7 linked regions of the Homo sapiens genome follow. The protein of the gene in region 4 purifies or fractionates together with the protein of the main gene of each other region. This does not show direct contact. Each region holds a gene or a part of one and is shown on either strand. Other genes may lie near its edges. The genes, in order: MZT2B, TTC33, SLC25A17, SLC5A6, RSPRY1, RNASEL and PXMP2.

Evidence for each region.
Region 1: the proteins of SLC5A6 (region 4) and MZT2B purify together in Homo sapiens (affinity purification with mass spectrometry; one large-scale study listed by BioGRID and IntAct). This does not show direct contact.
Region 2: the proteins of SLC5A6 (region 4) and TTC33 purify together in Homo sapiens (affinity purification with mass spectrometry; one large-scale study listed by BioGRID and IntAct). This does not show direct contact.
Region 3: the proteins of SLC5A6 (region 4) and SLC25A17 purify together in Homo sapiens (affinity purification with mass spectrometry; one large-scale study listed by BioGRID and IntAct). This does not show direct contact.
Region 5: the proteins of SLC5A6 (region 4) and RSPRY1 purify together in Homo sapiens (affinity purification with mass spectrometry; one large-scale study listed by BioGRID and IntAct). This does not show direct contact.
Region 6: the proteins of SLC5A6 (region 4) and RNASEL purify together in Homo sapiens (affinity purification with mass spectrometry; one large-scale study listed by BioGRID and IntAct). This does not show direct contact.
Region 7: the proteins of SLC5A6 (region 4) and PXMP2 purify together in Homo sapiens (affinity purification with mass spectrometry; one large-scale study listed by BioGRID and IntAct). This does not show direct contact.

What each region holds. Positions count from the first base shown.
Region 1 is NC_000002.12:130,185,262-130,188,244, reverse strand, and holds part of MZT2B (mitotic-spindle organizing protein 2B), read right to left. Parts: intron 1-2,983. UniProt on the Homo sapiens protein: Required for the recruitment and the assembly of the gamma-tubulin ring complex (gTuRC) at the centrosome.
Region 2 is NC_000005.10:40,724,962-40,728,461, forward strand, and holds part of TTC33 (tetratricopeptide repeat protein 33), read right to left. Parts: coding exon 3,384-3,500; intron 1-3,383.
Region 3 is NC_000022.11:40,788,347-40,791,846, forward strand, and holds part of SLC25A17 (peroxisomal membrane protein PMP34), read right to left. Parts: intron 1-3,500.
Region 4 is NC_000002.12:27,205,769-27,209,268, forward strand, and holds part of SLC5A6 (sodium-dependent multivitamin transporter), read right to left. Parts: intron 2,023-3,500; 5' UTR 1,883-2,022; coding exon 1,490-1,882; intron 1,175-1,489; coding exon 1,109-1,174; intron 767-1,108; coding exon 715-766; intron 326-714; coding exon 258-325; intron 1-257. UniProt on the Homo sapiens protein: Sodium-dependent multivitamin transporter that mediates the electrogenic transport of pantothenate, biotin, lipoate and iodide.
Region 5 is NC_000016.10:57,206,829-57,210,328, reverse strand, and holds part of RSPRY1 (RING finger and SPRY domain-containing protein 1 isoform 1 precursor), read right to left. Parts: intron 2,737-3,500; coding exon of another isoform or gene 2,644-2,736; intron 2,272-2,643; coding exon 2,219-2,271; intron 1,255-2,218; coding exon 1,142-1,254; intron 1-1,141.
Region 6 is NC_000001.11:182,579,257-182,582,756, forward strand, and holds part of RNASEL (2-5A-dependent ribonuclease), read right to left. Parts: intron 3,003-3,500; coding exon 2,797-3,002; intron 2,102-2,796; coding exon 1,969-2,101; intron 752-1,968; coding exon of another isoform or gene 698-751; intron 1-697.
Region 7 is NC_000012.12:132,701,087-132,704,586, reverse strand, and holds part of PXMP2 (peroxisomal membrane protein 2), read right to left. Parts: intron 3,338-3,500; coding exon 3,218-3,337; intron 1-3,217. UniProt on the Homo sapiens protein: Seems to be involved in pore-forming activity and may contribute to the unspecific permeability of the peroxisomal membrane.

The sequences.
Region 1 (2,983 bases), about 100 Mb from region 4:
AGCTCCCCACAGCACGCAGCATGGCAGGCCGCAGACTTGGGCCTGACTCAGAGTCGGCTTCCCTTCAGCTTGCTGCCATCTGAGCTTCCTCTCCTCCCCTCAGCAATGACCCAGTCCCTTCTGGAAACAAGGATGAGAGGGAAGCAGAAAAGAGCAAATAATGCTTTTTTTTTTTTTTGAGTGGTGGGGGAGGGGGGTTTAGAGACTGAGTCTTGCTCTGTCACTTGGTCTAGAGCACAGTGATGCAATCACAGTTCATTGCTGCCCCAAACTCACGGCCTGGAGGGATCTTCCTGCCTCAGCCTCCGATGTAGCTGGGACTACAAGCATGGGGCCACACCTGGCTAATAATGCTTATCTTTAAATCTGACAGGGTTGACAAACCCTGGAAATGTGAAACCAACATAACTTTAAGCCATAACTGATACTAAGAAAATCCTGGAAATCTTCAGGAATTGTGCGCTCTCAGGGTTAGTGGGGAGCCCTGTTCAGGCCTCCTCACTTTATGAAGGATGAGAAGGCCCAGAATAGAATGGCCTGCAGTGCCTTGCAGTGGGGAAACCAGCTTTGCTTAGCCCTGCTCCCTCGGGAGGGGCTACTGAGTCAGACGGGCTAGACAGTGGGATTGAACCAAGTGTGGCTGCAGGTTGGGGTGTGAGGGCGGGGTGACTGATGCCCCTACGCCTGGTCCCTGGAGGGCCCTCCTAAACGCCAAAGATAGTCAATGACCATTGAATGTTGAAAACAGCCTGGCTCAGCAGGGGTCAGTGGCTCATGCCTGTAATTCCACTACTTTGGGAGGCCAAGGCGGGAGGATCCTTTGAGGCCAGAAGCTAGAGACCAGCTGGGACAACACAGTGAGACCTCCATCTCTACAAAAAATTAAAAAATTAGCCACGTGTGGTAGTGTGCACCTGTAGTCCCAGCTACTCAAGAGGAGGTGGGAGGATTGTCTGAGCCCACGAGGTTGAAGCTGCAGTGAGCTATGAGTGTGCCACTGCACTCCAGCCTGGGTGACAGAACAAGACTGTCTCAAAAATAAATAAATAAATAAAAAGTAAAAGAAAATGCAGAATTAGCTCAAATACTTTAATCTAAAATATCCAACGTATTATTTCAATACGTAATCAGTACATAAGTTATTCATAAGATGTTGCATTCACCTCTGTTCTTTTTCTTGTTTCTTTGTAGAAATGGGTGGGGTCTTGCTATTTTGCCCAGGCTGGTCTCAAACTCCGAGCTTCAAGTGATGATCCTGCCTCAGCCTCCCAAAGTGCTGGGATTACAGGTGTGAACCAATGCCCAGCCTCATTCACTTTGGGGTTTTTTGTTTATTTTTGAGACAGGGTCTCACTCTCTCACCCAGGCTGGAGTGCAGTGGTGCAGTCACAGCTCACTGCAACCTCAACCTCCCAGGCTCAAGCAATCCTCCAACCTCAGCCTCCCAAGTAGCTGGAACTACAGATGTGTGCCACCATGCCCTGCTAATTTTTGTGTTTTGTAGAGATTGGGTCTCCCTGTGTTGCCCTGGCTAGTCCTGAACTGCTGAGCTCAAGAGATCCAGTAGCTGTGGACTCCCAAGGTGTGGTGGGTTTTTTGCATTCCCTTTTGTACCGGTCATTTGGCATCTGCTGTGCATACCACACGCAGTGCAATGACCATGCCAGCCATGTGTGGCTCAAGGTTCCTGTATCAGGCAGCACAGCTCAGGTGAGATGGCTTCCACACTCCAAACGTCATCTTACATGCATGCTCTGGACAACTTTTAAAACGTATAGTTTCTCTAAACTTAAATAGAACGCTTGACTGAATTTATTTTTCCCTCAATGACTCCAGACTCTCACCAAGACAAGCATTGCCCCTCTGTGCTTCTGGGGTTTTCTATTTCCCCTTCCCTGTGGGTATGAGTGAATCTGGTGGTGGTTGTCCCCACAGGCTGTCTGGATGGCTGGGGGACAGGCATCCAGAGGACCCAGGGTGCCTGCTGCAGCTCAGAGGCAAGCTTGAGAGGGCCTGGCCCACAGCCTGGAGAACTCCACACCCGAGTCCTGTGGGAAACCTATGGCCTCCATGCCCCCCAGCCGGATCACTCCAACAACCCCCCTTATGTCCTCCACCCCAGATTCTGCCATTACCAGGGCAGCCGGAGCTCTGTGTGGTCAGATGCTGTAACATGTGGGCCTCAGAGAGCTCTCAGCATTCCATCTGTGGCCTCTGCTTCTCACTCAGCAGCACACTCCTGGTGTGGCCCCACATCTGCCCCATTCCCCTCCACCTCCTCCTCAGGTTCCACTCTATCTCCACAGGGCCTCGGTGCCCTCATGTCCTGGCTTTCTGCCACCCAGCCTACAGGACCTGGGCTATGCTTCCAGGACAGAGCCCTCAAGGAACAAATGACCCTGAGGGTCCCAGCACTCCAGGCCACTCCTGTCCTTGGGTAAATTCTCTCGGAGCCCCCATTCGCTCACACAGCACCCCCTAATCCTCCTGGCCCCTCTATGCCTGCATTTCCAGTGCCACAACCCTCACATACATCTTGACCGTGCCCCCCCACCTGCCTCCTCCCGCCCCCGGCCTACCAGCACCTGGACAGCGCTCTGCCTCACCCACGCCCTCCCACTGCCCCAGCTCACACGTGTGGGGCTCTGCCGACCCCCCTCCTGCTGTAACCCTTGTTACCCCCCTGTGTAACCCTTGCTGCTCTCTGGGCTCTGAAGCCTCCTCCCATCTCCATTGCTAGCGGTTTTTCTTTTTTTTTTTTTTTTGAGACAGGGTCTTGCTCTGTTGCCCAGGCTGGAGTCCAGTCACAAGCTCTTGGCTCACGGCAACATCCCCCTCAGGCTCAGGCGATCCTCCCACCTCAGCCTCCCAAGTAGCTGGGACTACAGATGGGCGCCACCACCATGCCCACCTGGCTAGTTTTTTTTTTTTTTTGAGACGGAGTCTCGCTCTGTCCCCCAGGCTGGAGTGCAGTGGTGTGATC
Region 2 (3,500 bases), on a different chromosome or scaffold from region 4:
CCTGCCTCCTGAGTAGCTGGAACTACAGGCACACACCACCATGCCTGGCTAATTTTTGTATTTTTAGTAGAGACGACGTTTCACCATGTTGGCCAGGCTGGTCTCAAAACTCCTGACCTCAGGTGATCAACCCACCTCAGCCTCCCAACATGCTGGGATTACAGGCATGAGCCACCATGCCCAGCCAAATTTTTTTTTTTTTTTTTTGTAAATATAGGATCTTGCCATGCTACCCAGGTTGGTCCAAACTCCTGGCCTCAAGCAATCCTTCTGCCTCAGCCTCCCAAAGTGCTGAGATTATACGCGTGAGCCAGGATGCCCAGCCCCTCAAGTGAAATTTTAAAAACTCTCAATCATCTTCCTTTTGTCTGGAAATTATCACTTGTCCATCCCATTACTACCATTACAAAAGCGAAACAATAAAAAGAATCAAATGATGCAACTGAAATTTCTAATTAAAGATTTGCTCATGCAAAATATTAAAACCAATGGCTAAAATGAGACTTGGAAAACAGAGAAAACATTAGTAAACAAAATTAGTATTTATTGCACATTGGCATGAAGAAAAGCAAAAGCTGGCAATGAATTACACAGAGCCCGAAGAAGGGAAGCCACAAAGCTAGTTCCAGCACTGAAGGCTGAGAACCCTGGAAAGCCAACAGAAGAATCCTTCCTGATACTGTTACCTCCTGGTATTCATTACCTTTCCCAGTCTCCTTCCCTCTCTACCTTCTTCTTCAGGATAAATCCCTTATGTATTCCTTTCTCACCATCCCCATTCCCTCATACAGAATTTTTAACTCCCAGAACCATTCTCTTCAGCTTTTTTTTTTTTTTTTTTTTGAGACAGGTCTTGCTCTGTCACCCAGGCTGGAGTGCAGTGGCGCGATCTCAGCTCACTGCAAGCTCCGCCTCCCAGGTTCACGCCATTCTCCTGCCTCAGCCTCCCGAGCAGCTGGGACTACAGGCGCCCGCCACCACGTCCAGCTAATTTTTTGTATTTTTAGTAGAGACGGGGTTTCACCGTGTTAGCCAGGATGGTCTCAATCTCCTGACCTTGTGATCCGCCCGCCTCGGCCTCCCAAAGTGCTGGGATTACAGACTTGAGCCACCGCGCCTGGCTTCAGCTTTCTTATTCTCTCATCCTTCCACTTCTTAAAATCTCATTCTCATAAAGTCTTTTATATATATATATATATACACACACACACACGTATATATATATAAAATGTATACCATATACATACATATTTTATATATATATATCTCCTATAAACATTTTCCAATGTTCACATCCAACTCTTACAAAGTTTAAATAATTATTCATGGAGATATACCCAACTACTGACTTTTAATTTACTGCCTGTGCTATTTACATACATAATTTCCTATGGTTTTAGTCCATATGTATATATAGTAAGAATTGTTAGATATTAGAAATTCTAGCTTGCTTTCAATATATTTTACATAGTGTCCCTTCGTTATGACATTTTGAGTCATCTTTTTTTTTTACCATTCTAGTCTTTTAAGAGAACAGCTTAAATCTACATAAAAACAGAGAAGATTCCTAAAAATTACATTTAAATGGCAAAAAAAAAATACTTTCAATTCTTCTAAGAATTTCACAGTATTAATGAATAGAGCCATATCAACAGAAAAAAAAAAAGTCGAACTGGTACTCTTATTCAAAAAAATTTAAATATTAAATTATTTTTATTGGATGATTCAAAGTATCTCCGTCTCACCTGCAGTGTATTTTCTTTCTTTATAAAGGACAATCTTTACTAAATATTATGTCCTAGAGATTTGTTCCATTACCATAGACACTATTGGCAAAAGAGATAGTGATGTATAAATTTTTAATAAGGGAGGCAAGGAAAAAGTATTATATGATAGGGTTTTCTTCCCCTGTTAATGTTAGAAAACTAAATTCTTTGAACTCTTTTTTCCAACTCTGGTATGATTTAAGTCTTCATGTAAAAAGAGAGAAGTTGACAGTGCTAAATGGCAAGAAAAAAACAGTACTTGGTTAAAATGGTTTCTATCACTGTGAATCTCATTTAGATTATCATTAACTTACTTTAATCAAATCAATTATTTTCTCATACAAATTCCTTACTATTTCTGAGAATTTGACAAACACCTTTTTTGGTAAGTAGAAATAATGATACATTTATAAGAATGCCAGAAAAAAAGCTCAGTCATCCACAATTTACTAAAACCACTGTTAGTAAGTTTATATTTTGAATTTATCAGTAATTTTAGTCTTGCAAGAAACTTTTAAAATGTTTTATTTTGAACTGTAAAAAATAAAACCATTTTTAAAATCTTAATTTACTTAATAACAAGGAGGAAATTTGGCACTGTATATTAGATTTGCAAACACTTGTTAGGAAGTTAAATTTCGTTAGCTATCAGGTGTATATAGCCCTGCCAAAAGAAAAACAACAGGACAGCTGTCACAGCTAATTCTTACCTAGATAGCCTCTGCTACTAACAAGGTATAGTCCAGACAAATTGAGAGATGCATTAGGTACCAGTTTACGGTAAACATTACACAATGAGTATTTCATTTGCACACATTTCTACTCTTCCTCTTTATCCCCTCAATAAGCCTAACAACTTTTCAGTCTAAATGTTCATCACCATTACCCTCCCATATTCTACTGTCTTCCTTCCCCTGTATAATCTATCAGCGGTTTTGTCTCCACAGTGATACTAATACCACTTTATAATGTGGTAAATGTAATGATCCAAAGAACTAAGCCAAAAAGTTGCCTATTGTCTATTTAAATAAGGTTTACCAAATGCCAATGTTTTATGTTAAATTTTTTTTAATATCCATGATGTCAAGTAACTGAAAAATATTCTGATCATGATATAATTAGTGTCTATAATAAAAAAGATGTTCAGTAATACCTGTGAACTGTGTTTATGGATTAATACCTTTAAGAAGTAATTTGCTAATTGTTTTTTGTATAGACTTGATAAACGGCTATTCACTTTTGGGTTCAGTTAATCAAAAATATGTCAAAATAGACTGGGCATGTTGGCTCACGCCTGTAATCCCAGCACTTTGGGAGGCCGAGGCTGGAGAATCATTTGAGGTCAAAAGTTAAAGACCAGCCTGACTAACATGGTGACACCCCGTCTCTACTAAAAATACAAAAACATTAGCCAGGCATGGTGGCGCATGCCTATAGTCCCAGCTACACAGGAGGCTGAGACAGGAGAATCGCTTGAACCCAGGAGGCGGAGGTTGCCGTGAGCTGAGATTGCACCACTGCACTGTACCCTGGGTGACATCAAGACTCCATCTCAAAAAAAAAAAAAAGTCAAAATATACTTAAAATTTCTGCATTATAATAATCTGACTTCCTCACCAGGATTATCTCTCCTAAACCAAGTTGAGCACGTCCCAAAGTCTGCCAAGACTCCCATGAATGTGGATTTTGCTGGACGGCCATTTCTGCTGCATGTACTGCTGGGAACATTTCATG
Region 3 (3,500 bases), on a different chromosome or scaffold from region 4:
GCTGTAGGAAAATGTTTGATTTTTGAAATATAACCAAGATGAGGCTGGACAATAATAAACACTGGGCCGGGCGTTGCGGCTCATGCCTATAATCCCAGCACTTTGGGAGGCCAACGCAGACAGATCACGAGGTCAGGAGTTCGAGACCAGCCTGACCAACATGGTGAAACTCCATATCTACTAAAAATACAAAAATTAGCCAGGCGTGGTGGTGTGCGCCTGTAATTCCAGCTACTCAGGAGGCTGAGGCAGCAGAATCACTTGAACCTGGGAGGCAGAGGTCACAGTGAGCCAAGATCACGCCACTGCACTCCAGCCTGGGAGAGAGAGCGAGACTCCATCTCAAAAACTTAAAATAAAATAAAATAAAAACAAAACAAAACACTGAAATACTGGAAGACAGTGAATGAATAAATAATATGATTTTTCATCAGTGGCCATTCATTATTTTGCTTTTAGAAACCTGGAAGAAATTATCTTCTTTGAGTTTCAAATGTTCTGGTAAATCTAGTCATTTCTTAGCTTCCTCAAAAATCACCTTGAATTGCTGAAATAAGTGACTCTCATGAATCAAAGTTCTTTTCTGGTCTGAGGTAGCCAACAACGGCCACACTCAGGATTTCCCCATAGAAGTGCTCTTTGAAGGTATGCATGGTATGTGTTTCCATGGACTTCTTCGTATTCTCATAGTATGGGTTCCATCCTATGCTCACCACCATCTTCTGACCATCTCTACTTCCAGCACTGGCCCAACCATAATAAATGCCACTGGATATATCGGCTGGCAGATTATCTACCACTTGCTCAGGAAAATTAGCTGTGGGGGATGCCCAGCTGCTTGTAGCCACGGCCGAAGCCCCATACCACTTGGTCCCGGCAGGAGTATGACAGATGCTTCGTAATGCAGTCTGCTCGAGGCATGGGCTGCAGCCCGGTCCCTGCGTCCTACAGAGACACCGTCCACGCGGTGCCCGGACCCCGGACCAGCCACGGGGTGGGAAGGGGCGTGAGCTCTGTCTGCCGCGGGGGTGCACCAGGGGCCCGACGATGCCGATGACACGCCACGGAGGATCCCTGATGCCAGCGACTCAGGAGCTGGGTCTCCCAACCATTTTCATTTTCTTTCTTTCCTTCTTTCCCTACCTTTTAAAATATTTTATGTTTGTTTGTTTATTTAGAGGTAGAGTTTCCCTCTTGTTGCCCAGGCTGGAGTGCAGTGGCATGATCTTGGCTCACTGCAACCTCTGCCTGCCAGGTTCAAACAATTCTCCTGCCTCAGTCTCCCAAGTAGGTGGAATTACAGGCACCTGCTACCACACCTGGCTAATTTTTTGTATTTTCAGTAAAGGTGGGGTTTCACCATGTAGGCTAGGCTGTTCTCGAACTCCTGACCTCAGGTGATACACCCGCCTCAGCCTCTCAAAGTGCTGGGATTACAGGCGTGAGCCACCGCGCCTGGTCTAAAATTTATTTTTTATAGAGATGGGGTCTTGCTATGTTGCCCAGGCTGGTCTCAAACTGCGGGCTCAAGTGATCCTCCTGCCTTGACCTCCCAAACTGCTGGGATTACAGGGGTGAGCCACCACACCTGGCCTTGGACCATTTTCTGACAAGACAACAGATGATGCTCACAGTCAACACAGACCCGTAGACTCTCCTATGTGTCAACTGTAATCCTACCCCCTTCTCACACACTCAAGAAAACACTTTAGGCTGGGCGCGGTGGCTCACGCCTGTAATCCCAGCACTTTGGGAGGCCGAGGCAGGCAGATCACCTGAGGTCAGGAGTTTGAGACCAGCCTGGCCAACATGGTGAAACCCTATCTTTACTAAAAATATAAAAAATTAGCTGGGCATGGTGGTGGGTGCCTGTAATCCCAGCTACTCAGGTGGCTGAGGTAGGAAAATTGCTTGAACCCAGGAGGTGGAGGTTGCAGCAATCCAAGATTATGCCACTGCACTCCAGCCTGGGCAACAGAGTGAGACACAATCTCAAAAAAAAAAAAAAAAAAAAAAGTGGAAGAGTGAACTTTAAAGTTAAAATACAACAATTAAGGTTAGTAGGCTATTTATTATATGTGTTACTTTAACTGACTTTTTAAAATTGAGCCCTGAAAAAAAAAAGAAAAAAATTGTTCATGAGCCCTGAAAAAAAAATTTTAGACAAGTGGAAAAAAGTAAAAAATGAAAGCTAACTGCCCTACTATACCAGTCCAGCTGTGTTAGGTATGGGGGAGTCTGCTGTAATCCTAAATTGCACTAAGAGTTAGAAAGATGAACAGGACAGAGAGAGTAACACAGGGGTGGTATATATCTGGTGGGTAATGGGATGGCAGACACAGCAAATAAACCGCTTTGGACAATTTAAAAAGCAAAAGATTTCAACATATAGTCCATGAATTAGAAGTTTCATGGAAAGTTATATGAGTTAGTCCCTGTAAGTTATAATCTTTCAAATGCAAATACATATAAACTAATCTAAAATGATTAAAATCAAAGTATTACAAATAACTGGTCTCAAGTATAGAAGATCCCACTAGATTGCCATTTGTTGTAATTTATGTAAAAAACAAGTCTTTTTCTGTACAGGAACTATTCTAATTTTTTTCCCCAAGTGAACAAATCTCAAACTTGAGTTCTTTGAGTCGTGATACTCTTTGAAAACTACTCTCCTAGAAAGGCTGCAAAACTGTGCAAAGTGGGTTCATGAGGAAGACCTCAAAGGGAAGATCAGACTATAGTGCAATAGTCCAGGTGAGCAATGATAAGGTTTGATTTGGGGAAATGGCTATGGATATGGAGAAGAGGAAATGGATCCAAGAGACAGTGAGGAGACAGACCAGTGGTTCTTGATGGCCAAGCAGATGTGGAGGGTGGGAAGGCACGAAGAGCCTGTGATGACTCCTAGACTTCTATCCTGAGTTATTTATCCAAAATTCAACTTCTCTCCCCTTCTCTCTAAGCACATGGCTGGTTCCTCTGGCCACCAGCCTCCATCCTGAAGCTATCTAGGAGCCCACCAATAGTAACTTTATTAGCCTAAACTCAGAGATAGTTCAAAGGGGCTCATTAGGAATAACAAAAGATACTACTACTCAGGAAATTCCAATGGTTTTAGGAACTGTGCCAGGAACCAGGGACAAAGGCCACATACATTTTTTATTATACCACATACAGACATCCTACAACTTCAGAGCAAAAAAATGTAATAACCTGATTAAAAAATAGACAAAGAACCAGAACAGACATTTCTGCAAAGATAATATACAAATGGCCAACAAACATATGAAAAGTGATGTTCAGCATCACTAATCATCAGAGAAATGCAAATCAAAGCCACAGTGAGATATCACCTCATACCCATTAGGATGGCTACTATCATAAAACAGAAAGTAAGTGTTAGTGAGGATGTGGAAATATGGGAACTTCTGTGTACTGTTGGTGGGATTATAAATGTTACAGTGTTATGGAAAACAGTATGGAGGTTCCCGAGAAAACTG
Region 4 (3,500 bases):
AGAACATACTACCAGTGAGGGGACTCTCCTGCCATTAGGCATGTAATTGCTGTGACCCTGTTGACATCATTCCCATCCCATCCTCTACCTTCATATACCATCCCCACTGCTAAATCCTATCATAAATCTTACCACCCCAGAATTTCACCTATTCTCCTCATCTATATTCTCAGCTTATCTCTTCTTTTCCTTCTCTTCCCATGTCCCCTCCTTACTTCATCCCTTCCCCTCCCCACACCACGGCTTACTGCACTTACCAGAGCTGTATAGACGGTACAGACAATGCCCAGGGCCAGCACGGACAGCCACAGATCAAAGCCAGTCACTGTAAGCATAGAAGCCACATTCTTATCCCTGGAAAAGGGTTCCCCAGGGGAGAAGCCCTGGTAGGGCAATCACGTCATGCCACAGAGATAAAGCATTGGTCATTAACAATGAAATAAATCATTCACCACAACGGAGAAAAATGTTTGCAGAGCTCCACCAAAAGATATTGACTAACCAGTTCAGATAGGGCATGGTAACATGTTACTAGCTGTCAATTGAGGTGGACCAAGCCTTCCTCTGGTAGAGACCCACCCAAGGGCCCAAGCGGTGAATTAATTCCCCATTCAAGGTCAGGTTCTTTTCCACATACGCTCCTCCATCTGCCTCTCCCAAAGGTGCTTTCCTAACCTACCACGGCTGAAAGCCAGGGGCTGTGTGACTCCTCACCTGCATTGAGAGCCAATGACGGAGCATAGAGCACAACTCCCATGTAGATCACCTGTTGCATGTGGAAAAAATGTGATGGGGGCCGGAGAATGGTGGGAAGAGAGAGGAAGAAAGATGGGCCTCAGCGCCAATATGCCCATGGCTTCCCCTCACCTAGGCTCACTTCCCTCTTCCTTCTCCTCTCAAATTCTGGCTTGCTGCCACCACAGTATCTGTGCTGGAATTGGAAGGCATGGGCAGCAGGATGCCTCTGGGGTCCTCACAGATGCTAACCTCTAGCAGGAATTTCAATCCTGCCAATCTGAGAGCAGGGGAGACTCCAATTCCCTCAGCATGCTTGCGTTCAGGTCCCCCAACATGCCCTAGGCTCGGTTTCTATCCTCATTCTGCTTACCATCTGAAAGATGAAGGTCACAGTTCCACACACTCGCACAGTTTTATTGAATCGAAGCTCCAGGTACTGGGTATACAGAAAAAAAGATTTTTCTCCTGACTTCACCCCGACAACTCACAGACAAATTCCCTCAAGATGCTCAGGAACATGAGGGAATATCCAACCCATACCCACTCTGAGTCCTACTCGGCATAGCACCCTCCTCTCCAATCCTGCCCCTATACCTAACATCACTGAGAAAGAATTATAAACACACAATGAGTTTTCTGTCCCTCTCATTAGGTGGAGGAGGTCTAGGGTCCCAGGTCCTTCCTATGTGCCTGTCCCTCCTCTCCACCCCAACCCGTGTCCCACGCACTTCTCCCTTCTGTCCCTGCTCACCTCATAGGCACTGGTGAGATGCAGGCGGTAGAAAACGGGGATGAAGATGTGTGCAGGTATCAGCAGCCCCAGAAAGTAGCAGCAGCCCAGGAACCAATATTGGGTCCCAAATCGGTAGATCTCTGACGGCACACCCAGGATGGCCACGGCTGACTGGAAGGTGGCCAGCAGGGACAGTGCCACCGGAAGGCAGCCCATTTTGCGGTCCGCCATCAGCAGCTCACCAACAGTATGCCGGCCCCAGCCACGACAAGCATGGTAGAGCCCAATGGCAAGAGAGAGAACCAGCAGCAGGACGAACACCACATAGTCCATGATGGAGAAGGTAGACATGCCCACGCTTGTGCCCGAGGTTGGGGAAAGAGGGGCTGAGGTGCTCACCCCTACACTCATATCCTCACTGTGTCTGTGATCTGCAGCCAGTTGCTGCTCCAGGGCTCTGGGGTAGGGCAGGGGCGGATGTGTGGCTACAATCTGGCTTCCAGCCACAGTCTCACAGTCTTCCTCCACGGAGTGATACTGTCCAGGGTGAGCTGCAAAGGAATTAGCTCTTAGTGAGGCCTATCTGGCCTTGGTAGCCATTCACCCTTGGGCCTTGTACATCGCATGCCATCAGAAGTGGACCAGCCAGCATAGTGGTAGCCCTTCAAGGTCTAGAGGCCCTGGTATGGGTTTGGTAGGGGACATAAGTGAGGGAGAAGCATCAGAGTGCGACAGCCAGGAGACAATATAACTTGGCCAGGACCTTTGAGTATGCACAGCTGTGAAATTCAACAACCTTCTTAGGTCTCCACCCGAGTACCAAAAGAAAAATAAACTCTAGCCTAAGTTTCTTAGCAGAATTTCCCAGCCCCACTTGAAGGCACAGACCCAGTCACTACAATACACTAAGCCAGCAGAGCCCAGCCTGGCGCCACAGCCCAGCAGGAAACACAGCATGGAGACTAATGGCAGCAGGGCTTCCCCTACTGCCCCTGGCCTCGGCCCTCGCCTCCTGTGATCCCCAGTGTCACCCTTCTAACTGATCATCAGTGAGACTGCCTCTGTGGCAGCCACAGACTCCATTTCAGGCGTCCCCAGGCCAACCCCTTTCTTAAGGTTCTCCCCAACACCACTAGATAAGTGCTGCCACCCACCTCTCAGCCCCTCTACCTGCAACATCACAGTCAACAGCAGACGCAGGAAGAGCGGCTGGATTCAAAAGTGAGAGGGGAAAGGTGAGAGGGCACCATGCTGGAGTCAGGGTTTCAGAATGACGATTCTCCATTCTGGAGAGAAGCAACCCAGTCACGGAGCTGAGAGGCAAAGGGACCAGCCAAAGAGAGTGGTCGTATCCTGCTGGGGACAGACACCTACCTGGAGAAGCAATCCCTGTTCTGAGGCAGAGTTGCCTGGAGCTGCAGAGCTGAGGATCTGGCTCTATGAGTAGCTGAGGTGAGAGATCAGGAATTGGGGGTGGGGTGAAGCTCAGCAGTCATTTGTTCTGGCCCCTTCAGGGAACCAATGGCTGTGTTCCAAATGGCCCTATCACCCTATGGCCCCCAAACTCCAACTCAGCCCTAGAGGCTCCAGAACAGGGAAGAGGGAGCTCATATTCAACAGCATTCCTAGATGGATTAGCCTTTCAGCCTAAAGTACTCTTGGCACTCTGTGCGGGAGGGAGTTGGAAAGAAGGAACTGAAAACATGGGAAAGTTGAAAGTTGATTTTCTAACTCCTGCACAAGAAATGTTAATCCCCCAAGAATACACCACAATCCTCAGAGAAAGAGGGAAGGGATCATAATATTTAAAATCTTAAATCTTTGGACACCACTATTACAACCAACCCCCCACCACTGACGATTTCACAGATAAACACGCTAAGGCTCAGATGGTTCAAGTGACCTTTCCAAAAGCACAGAGCCGACTATTGTCAGAGCATAAATTAGAACCCAGGTCTAGGGATTCACCATCCACCCTGTCTGTTCTCCAAGCGTATCATATTGTCTTCAAAGGCAATCCTCTGGGGTA
Region 5 (3,500 bases), on a different chromosome or scaffold from region 4:
GTGGGAGGATCCCTTGAGCCCAGGAGTTCAAAATCAGCCTGGGCAACATAGTGAGACCCTTTATCTACAAAAAATAAAAAAAATTTAGCTAGGTGTGGTGGTGCATGCCTGTAGTCCAGCAACATGGGAAGCTGAGGCAAGAGGATCACTTGAACCTGAGAGGTTGAGGATACAGTGAGCCATGACTGTGCCACTGCACTCTAGCCTAGGCGGGGCCGGGGAAGGAAGGGAGGCAAGAAGGAAAGGGAAGGAAAGAAGGAAGGAAGGGAGGAAGGGAGGAAGGGAGGGAGGGAGGGAGGGAAAGAAAGAAAGAAGAAAAAAAAGCAATTAAATAAAGCCTTGATAGAGAATGTGGCGGGGCACAGTGGCTAACGCCTACAATGCCAGCACTTCGGGAGGCTGAGGTGGGCTGACTGCTTGAGCCCAGGAGTTTCAAGACCAGCCTGGGCAACATGATGAAACCCCATCTCTAAAAAAAAATACAAAATTAGCCAGACATGGGGTCATGCACCTATGGTCCCAGCTACATGGGAGGCTGAGGTGGGAGGATCACCTGAGCCTAGGGAGGTTGCAGCTGCAGTGAGCTGTGATTGCTCTACTGCACGCCAGCCTGGGTGACAAAGTGAGACCCTGTTTCAAAATAAATAAATAAAAAGACAGAGGGCTGGGTGCAGTGGCTCATGCCTGTAGTCCCAGCACTTTGGGAGGAGGCCGAGGCAGGTGGATCACCTGAGGTCAGGAGTTCAAGACCAGCCTGGCCAACATGGTGAAATCCCGTTTCTACTAAAAATCCAAAAATCAGCCAGGTGTGGTGGCGGGTGCCTGTAATCCCAGCTACTTGGGAGGCTGAGGCAGGAGAATCGCTTGGACCCGGGAGGCGGAGGTTGCAGTGAGCCAAGATCACATCATTGCACTCCAGCCTGGGCAACAGAGTGAGACTCTTGTCTCAAAGAGGAAAAGAAAAAAAAAGAGGACATAATTCTTCATAATACAAAATAAATTTACATAACAAAATCAATACTGAATAAAACAGACCCCAAATGTATAAAGATGAAACACAATACATCAAATGTTCTTTGTGGTCATTTATCTTGTGCTTAAGCACAAATGATAGTTTCATAAAAGATAAGTATTAACTTACTTTAGTGGGCAATGGACATTCATCTAGTAACAATGTTATAACAGCTGGTCCCAGTGGATCTTCCAGTGGAATAACTCTAATTAAAGACTGGACAACATCCAACCATCCTTCATCTAAGAGCAAATCAAGAAGATTATATGATGGAGTCACTATTTTTAAAATGTGAAAATATGTCACACGAGATCAATTCACATTAAAAGAAAGACTTTTGGTCTATAGATTTTTAGCAGCTAATATTTGGCATGGACATAATCATCAATTGCTAGTCATCGTGGTGGAGTAAAAACATCTTAAGTTACAGGAGTCTGGTGATTTGTGGGTACCTTTATTTGGAAAAAGGTTAAGCTATGGTCTTGTGCTCTCACATTAAAATAGTTTTAAGCATCTTATTTACTACATAGGAGTTAACTGAGAAAATGAAGTATACTCAGCAGTTGGCTTTGTTTTCAGAATGATACTTAGGAAACTAAGGAACAAAAAATATCTTTGGCCAGGGGCTGTGGCTCACACCTGTAATCCCAGCACTTTGGGAGGCTGAGGCAGGAGGATCCCTTGAGCCCAGGAGTACAAGACCAGGCTGGGCCAACATGGTGAAATTCTGTCTCTACAAACAACAGAAAAATTGCTGGGTATTGTGGCATGCGCCTGTGGTGCTAGCTACTTGAGAAGCTGAGGTGGGGTGATCACCTGGGCCAGGGTAGGTTGAGGCTGTAGTTGAGCTGTGATCGTGCCACTGCACTCCAGCCTGGGCAACAGAGTGAGACTCTGTCTCAAAAAAAAAAAAAAATATATATATATATATATATATATAAATAATCTCCTCTCCATTCCAGAACAGTATGGTGAAAGATCCATCAATGCCAAAAAAAAAAAAAAAAAAAAAAAGGTATAATATGCATTGCCTATTATACCTATTCAGGGAAATTTCCATACAGTAAGGGCTTTTTTCATTGTTATGTATGCTGTATTTTTGGAGTCTTTTATCTCAAAACAAAACAAAACAAAAAACAAAAGGTGGCTACTTTTCTTCATTATTATATATTCATTATAAAGTAATGAAAACAAAACTAAAAATACCTGTTTCTGCCATTTCGTGTAATGTTATCATTGAATAGGGAGGTTCCTGATCACTGGAAAAAAAAATTCAAGGCATTAAACCTGAGGAAATAATAAATGACAATTCCAAATAAGAATTCAAACTGGAGGTGTGGAGGTAAAAAGGGACAGAAGAAATGAACACAAATGTAAGGAAAGAGATAGAAGAGACAACCTGAGCTATGACCTGTAAGGATGAATGTATACCATATGTGCTCATTTCCAGTCACTGTCCACAATGACCCACAGACAAAATGGGCAGGTGGATACAGACAAAGACTACTATGTGTCCTGGGGTAAAAGCACAGGAGTAAAACTGGAGATCACAGCCTACTCTCAGCTTTACACTCAGAGGCCCAGTGCCAACTGAGACAAGCCAGGAAGGTCAACATCACCTTCATACTTACCTCAGAGAAATGCCAGGAAGAGAGACGACAATCCCGGTTGAGGACTTATGGAAGCAAGGGCCTATATACGCATCTTCATTTTGAAGTTTTCTTCTGGAAATACCACTACATGCTTAGACTTCATAAAATGGTATTACAAGAAACAAAACCAAACTTAAGGAACTACTTAACATTCTAGACATTGCTCCAAAGTGGCATTATACACCTTAATTCAGTGGTGTGATCCCAGAAATCTTTAAAAAGTCCTTCAGGGGAACTTCAATAATGAGATGTTTTCCATTAAACAATTCTAACTGCTTAAGAACTCACCACTTATTTGTTTACATATTGTGGGTCTCTGTTTTAGTGTGGAAAAAAAAAAAGCCCCAAAAACTATCATCTTAAGTCATTTAATCCAGAGAATAACCTTGTGATATGGGAATTAGTATGGTCATTTCAGGTACTCATTAGGTGCTGCCTGTTTAAACAATATAATTGACTGATGCAAGTATTTCTGAAGAATGATCTGGCAATAATAAAATTAAGTATGCATATACCCAACAGTTGTAGATAAATTTTTACACAGGTCCAAAAATCAATGCATATTTGCGCTGTTCACTGCAGTGCTGTTTGTAAGAACAAAAATTTGGCAGTAACCTAAGTGACCATCACCAGATGAAAATGTAACAAAATATAATACTTTCAGGCATACAAGGGAATACTCTGTAATAGTCAGAAGCAGTTGTAGATTTATATACAGTAACACAGATTTCGATGTTGAGAAAAGTTAAAAACAAAGAGGTTTGTATAACTATGTCACTCTCTTTTAAAATATTGCAAGGGGCCAAGCGTGGGGGCTCACATCTGCAATCCCAGCA
Region 6 (3,500 bases), on a different chromosome or scaffold from region 4:
GCAGGTGTCCCAGGGCAACTCCTTTCATATCACAGTAATGTCATCCTCTTTGTCTGTGCTTGTCACCCTCATAGATACAGAGCCATAGATGGCTCTCATATTTAGAAAGAGTTTGGGCTACGAGATCAAGATGCAACAGTCAAGAATCCAGTGGGTCACTTAGGAAGAGTAACTGATGAAAGAGCAATGCTAGTGAGGATGCTGCTGAGACTGGCCAGGTGCACTCTGTGCAGAACACCCGTGAGAAACGCCAAGCACGTATGTGTGGCAGGATGGGGCAAGTCAAGAACCAATACAGTCATACAAGCTGGAAAACTTGGGCTCCAGACCTATGCTGACAAAATTAATTGTGTGACCATGAAAATGGGCAAGTCAACAGAAAAACAAAGTGTAAAATGGGAATTAAAAGGTAAAACTTGAAGTTAAAACCTGAAGACTATCAAAATTCAATATAAGCCCATGGAATTTAGGGAAAAGAACCAATAAATTGGGAAATAAAAGAACAAGTTCCTCTTTCCAGGTCTGCCAATCTCTGACTGTCCAGCATGAGTAATTTGAGTGTGGTCTCTGAGCCTCAATTTCCTCAGTGAGTAAATGAGTTGGTAGACTTGATGCCATCACAGCTTCATGTAGTGGTGTGGCTTAAGCACATGGCCTCTGCAGCCATCCTTCCCAGCTTCAAATCCTGGTGCACCCCTTACTGGTTCTGTGTAGTTGGAAAAATTATTTGTCTGTGCCTCAGCTTGCTCATCTGCAAAATATAGATGATTGTCTCAGAAGTTGTGCTAAAGATTAAATGTGGTAACTCATGTAAAGTCTCAAGAACTATGGCTGCCACATAATCATAATGATACTACGTAATCATTAGCTATCACTATCATAGCTGCTTTCAAATTTCTTTGTTTCTACAAGTTAAAATTTTAGCCAAAGTTTGATAGACATTCATTTAGTAAAGAGTCATGGCACATCTACTCCATGCCAGGGATACAATAACTGACAAGACAATGGGTAGTCTCTGCCTTCATGGAACTTACAGTCTAGCAAGGAAAATGGACCGTAAGCCAGTAATTATGAGTGTGATGTGCAGTCTAGAGACCAGTGAGGGAAGGAAAGCAAAACAAGAATTAGGAGAAGCAGAGTCCCAGGTCAGGTCTAGGATAGGAAGCTGTTGGTTTCCAAGACCTGAAGATTATGGGTTCTCCCATAGTGCTTTGCACATGTCCCTGGGATGCCCAGCACACATCCCACAGCATCATTTCCATGGGCTTCTCAGCCCCACAGGGACACATTGTATTCTGCTTTGTATGCTCAAGGCCTTGCATGGGCCTAGCACATAATTGGTATTGTATAGATGTTTGTTAATTAATAATGAAAGTTCTGACAGTACTGACTAGATTGAGATGATGACTAATTTTGTAGAGTTCCACTATAATTAATGCAAGTTAGGTGGAACTTTTCTTAAAGAGAGCAATTTGAAAGATCATCTTTCCTTCATAGTCTATTTCCTCAGGCAGAATGTAGGTCTGTGTGTGGATCCTGAGAGCTGGGCTGTTTACAGGCAGTGGAGGCAGCCAGGCTGTACCTGGACTGAAACACCTCATGGTGAAGCACTTCCCTTGGATTAAGCTCTATTTAGTCAGCTGCTCGTGCCATAATGGCAATAGGATTATCAGCTAAGTGAGGGAAAGGCTCATGGGCTGGGATAAGGCCATCCAGGGGGAGCCTGAATAACAGTCTATCAGAGGGGCATGGGTCTGAATGGGAGAGAGGGAGGGCCAGCTTCTGAAAGTAGAAGTAGACACCCCGGCAGGGAGCCTAGGGGGATAGGGATGGGAGGGCAGGAGGCAAAATCACCTCTTTGAGCCTCTGGTTTGCCACTGGTGTAAAATAAGATAGAAAAACTAACATAAAACATTACACAAATTCTTATTCCTGGACTAACCCCTGCACTATAGGAATTGTTCATACCTTAGTCGTCCACTTGTCAAAACTTTTGGAATGTTCAGAAGGCCCAGGTTGCAGTAGTCTGAGGATCTCACTTTCAGATTTTCGTGTTTTGATGTCGGATTCATTTCCCACATTCCGAAGCGTCCTATAGCGGCTGAAGATGACTAAATGATCTAAATGATCATGATCATCCCATCCCTCCCTTTCCTTTTCCAGAAAAAGAAAACCGTTAGATTTTGGTGTTTTTTGTGCTTTCTTGGTTTTTCTTTCTTTTTTTTTTTTTTTTTTTTTTTTTTGAGATGGAGTCTCGCTCTGTCCCCCAAGCTGGAGTGCAGTAGCGCAATCTTGGCTCACTGCAACCTCCACCTCCCGGGTTCAAGCAATTCTCCTGCCTCAGCTTCCCAAGTAGGTGACATTACAGGCACCTGCCACCACACTCGGCTAACTTTTGTATTTTTAGTAGAGACGGGGTTTCACCATGCTGACCAGGCTGGTCTGGAACTCCTGACCTCATGATCCACCCGCCTCGGCCTCCCAAAGTGCTGGGATTACAGGCGTGAGCCACCGCGCCTGGCTAGATTTTGGTTTTTAATAAAAGTAATACAACCATGTCTTCAAAAATTCTGCATGATAGGAGAGGCAAGCATCTCTTTTTTTCCCCTCCTTATTCTTCAGAAATGAAAAGCAGACTCCAGAGAGGTTAAGTCATCTCTCCAAGGACACACAGCCAGTAAATCCCAAGCTAAGAAAAAAGCCTGGGTCTCCTGATTTGCAGCCCAGACTTCTGTCTGCACCACCTTACCCTTTCCATCCTGGAGGCCTGTGGCATCTGCACAAAGTTTTACTTACCTCTCCCAAGTCCAAAAGAAGGGATGACCCAGCAGGTCACTCAGACAGTCCCTCACATGTTCCCCAGGATGGAAGAGACGATGAATGAGGTCCTTAGTTTCCTCATCTGGAGAAAGTTGAACCACCTCTTCATTACTTTGAGCTTTCAGATCCTCAAATGAGATGCTTCCCTTCTTTACCACATAGAGGACCAGCCGTCCAAGGTCCTGCACAAAAGCCATAAATCAAGCCAAAGATGCTTACTAATTATTTGGGTAACCCTGGAAGGAGTGGTGCACGCTATTAGCAAACAAGATGATGGGAGGAATCTCAAGGAATTTGTAGGCTTGTTAGGGAGGGAAGGCACAGATGTGTGCATACAGACCTCTTCAAGGCAGTATATCGCCCATACCACTTAGTTTTATGAAGAGTAAAAGATACATATAAGTCACAGTTGTTAGGGCAGACTGCTTGGAGGAAGAGAGATTTGAGCTGGGCCTCAAATGTATGGACAGAATATAGATAAATTGAGGAAAGGGAGAATGCTTTAAACACAGGGAGAACTGACAGCCTGGCTGGAAACTGGGACTTTGGGTCTGAGGCTATGTCACGCAGCAAATAAAAAAGTCAGTCCAGGCCAGGAGAGGCAAAGTGATGACCCCAGGGATTAGGCCGTGGCCAGGAGGAAAGGCCAAGAAGAAGGTCGCCTAAGGAACTCTTTGCAC
Region 7 (3,500 bases), on a different chromosome or scaffold from region 4:
CAGCGGGAGGCCGTGGCCAGTTATCCAGCCTCAGTCACCCAGTTCATTTGTTTACCCGTTTGTTGGTCAGCTGGTCCAACCACCCATCCATTACTGCATTTACTGAGCCTTTGTTCGTACCAAACGCTGTGCTAGGCCCCTAGCAGAGAGGAGTGGAGAAGAAAAACGGTCCCCTAGTTACAGTGTTCACAGGCTACAGCGGCCCAGGAATCCCAAAGCCAAGTCACTCTCCTTTTGCCCCCTTCACCGCACACCTTAGCTCCTGGTTCAGCCTCTCTCACTCCAGGACCAGCCATCATGCAGGTGGCTGCACCCTCCTCAGGGGACACAGCTGACGAACAGCGGAGGGGCCCCAGACCTTCCCTCCTCTAACCCATCACCATCCCACTGCCCTGCTTTGGTGACTCAGCAGCTTCACCCTTCCCCAGAATCCTCTGGCCCAGTGCTGAGTCTCTCCCTGGCACGTGGTGCTATGAAAGTAGCAGCCCATGTGTCTGGTTAATCGCCGCGTCTCCGAGTCTAGCAGCATGGCGCACAGTCACTGCTCAGGAAACGCTTGCTGAATGAATGCTGCTTCCGCATACACCTGCACCCACCTAGGATGGCGACTCTGCCCCCACGCTACTCAGAGGCGCGGCTTCCCAGCTCTCCCCTCTTCCATCCCAGATCCTCCGTGTTCCCGGCCAGTCTGTCTTCTCAGTTGTCTCTGCTTCCTTCTCTAAATTCCCGAGAACCAGTGGCCCATGGCTGTAGCTTCCTTAGCCTACTGTTCTTCAGTCACACTCCCTGGAAAATCCTTTATCCTTCCTGCCTTCTCACTTCCCCAGATGCTGACCACAGCTGGACAAGCCCCAGCCCCCTCTGCCCAGAGGTCTTTGTCTCTGCAGTCAGCATGCTCTCCCATCCTCCACATGGCCAAACTTGCCCCTCCTGTATCCCCTTAAAATGCCCGCCTGACTTCCTCTGCCCTCAGTCCCAGCCCCTGGCCCTCCAGAGAGGCACGTGGGGGCTTGAGGCAGGATGTCCCACTCTCCTGTCCGCTCAGCTGTCACTTTCTCTCTCCTCTCTCATCACAGAGGGCAGGGCCTCTGTCCAAGCACCACTGTGAGTGTGCTGGGGGCTCACATCCACCCTGACTCCTTAGGGGACCCCGCAGAGCTGCTCTTTCTGGACATGCGTGTTTGCCCATCCCACAAGCAGCTTCACGTCTGCACCCACCATGGCCGCATCTCTGAGTGTCAGAACCCCCTCTGCCACCCAGCCTTCTTCCATCACTTCTCACCTTCTCTCAAACTTTTTAAAATTCATTTTTATAAAATAGAGATGGGGTCTCACTATGTTGCCCAGACTGGTCTCAAACTCCTGGCTTTGAGTGATCCTTCTGCCTCAGCCTCTCAAAGTTCTGGGATTACAGGCATGAGCCACCATGCCTGGCCCCCACAGACTTTGAGAGCATGTTCTAGACTTGTGATTTTTAAAATAATTCCCACCCACTCTTCAAGGCAATCTGGCTTCAGCCCCATAGAGCTGAAATTGCTCTGGGAAGGGCCACTGTTAAAGCCAAAGGAAATTTTTTTATTTTGCTTTAACTCCTGGCAACTTTGGCTAAGGGTGAACTGCCTCTTTGTCCTGTCTGTGTGCACCCCTGGTTTCCTGCTGCTTCTTGGTGTGTTTGTGGTGTGTGCAGTGTGCACACACTGGGCCGCCTCCCTCCTCTCCCTCGGGGGTCACCCTGGTCCTTTCCTCCCTCCTGGGCAGGGCTCAGAGCCGGTGCTAATGCAGGAAGGCCCTCTGCAGCTGAGGTCCAGCCACTGCAGGCCTGTTCAGGTCCTCCCTAGCAGCAGCCTGGGCTGGGACGGCACCCACCTTTCCCAGAAGGGCCACCTGCCCTGTGCCTGGACTGTTTGCACCAACAATGCAGGCTCCACACAGCTGCTGTCTTTCTAGGGGTCTGGAGCTTTGGGGCAGCAGGCAGAGATGCCCGCCCAGAGTACCAGTAAAAAACCCTGATGGGCGGCATACCTTCTGGGGGAGGGAAGCACGTGGCCCCTGCAGGCTCTGCCAGGCCTCCTCCTGTAGCATCTGGGGGTATCCTGCCATGCTGCAGGGGGTGCTGCACCCCATCCTCCCAGTGTGGGAGTGGTCCTGGGGACCCTGGCTGTGCATAAAGACAGTTGATCCCAGTGGCAGAGCCTGGAGCTCCAGCCTCCACACCACCAGCCCAGCCCCAATCTGACACCTTTGACTCAGCCCCCACAGCAGCTCCTTCATGCACAGGATAGCGGAAAGGCTCAGCTTACCCAGAAGGCCTTCACTCTGCACCTGGATGGGCCCACCCCTTGCCCAGGTGTGGCTGCCATGGCTGCAGGTGAGGCAGCTCTTCCAGGCCAGCGGCAGGACCCATGGCCGCACAGTGCCTGCCTTCAGGCTCAGCTGTAATTCATGAGCCCAGGGACCACGAATGCTTTGTTTCTTTTTAACATTTTATTTATTTTTTGAGACAGGGTCTTACTCTGTTGCCCAGGCTAGAGTGCAGTGGCACAATCTCAGCTCACTCCAACCTCCGTCTCCCGGATTCAAGTGATTCTTGTGCCTCAGCCACCTGAGTAGCTGGGACTACAGGCACCTGCCACCATGCCTGGCTAATTTTTGTATTTTTAGTAGAGATGGGGTTTCGCTATGTTGGCCAGGCTGGTCTCGAACTCCTGGCTTCAAGTGATTTGCCCACCTCAGCCTTCCATAGTGATGGGATTACAGGTGTGAGCTACTGTGACGGCCTTCTTTTTCTAAGTATAACTAGAGTTTATTTGGGCCAAGTTTGAGGACTGCAACCCAGGAGCATAGATTCAAGTTGCCTGCATGTACATTCCTGGGACTGGGAATGTTTCAAAGGCTAGAAAACTCATAGGCATCCCTGGCATGGGGGCTTTTAATGAGAATTTGCTGAACGAACAGAAGAGGCAAAGACGACCACTCGGGACACCCTTCTCTGTTGCTTCCTGAATCCCGAACTAGCAATGATTCAGGGTCATGGGCAAAATCCAAGGGTAGTTGAGGAGTCTAGACACGGATGAAACTAAGTCTAGCGGAAAACTACCAAAGAAAGAAGAGAAGAGAAAAGAAGAGGGGAGGGAGGGGGGGAGGAAAGAGGAAGGAAGGAAGGAAGGAAAAGGCTGACAAAGTAATGTTAGCAGAGGCTGAGCCCCGTGGCCCTCACCTTCAGAGGGACGTAGTTGATGTTGATGAACTGTAGTGGCGTCCACACCCGCCAGTTCATCCTCAGCGCCGGCCAGAAGCCCCCCCTCATCTTGGCGGCGAAGGCTGAGGCGTCTTTCCCCTGCAAAGGAGGGAAGGCGGGTGGTGAACAGTCTCACTGCCCATCAGAACTGAATTCCGGGCACCCAGACCCTATCGTGATGGTTTTTAAACTGCTATTGGATTTTGTTCTGTGTGTACGCAGACAGCACACATGTGTACTCAGCACTGCGGCTCTAAGGAGC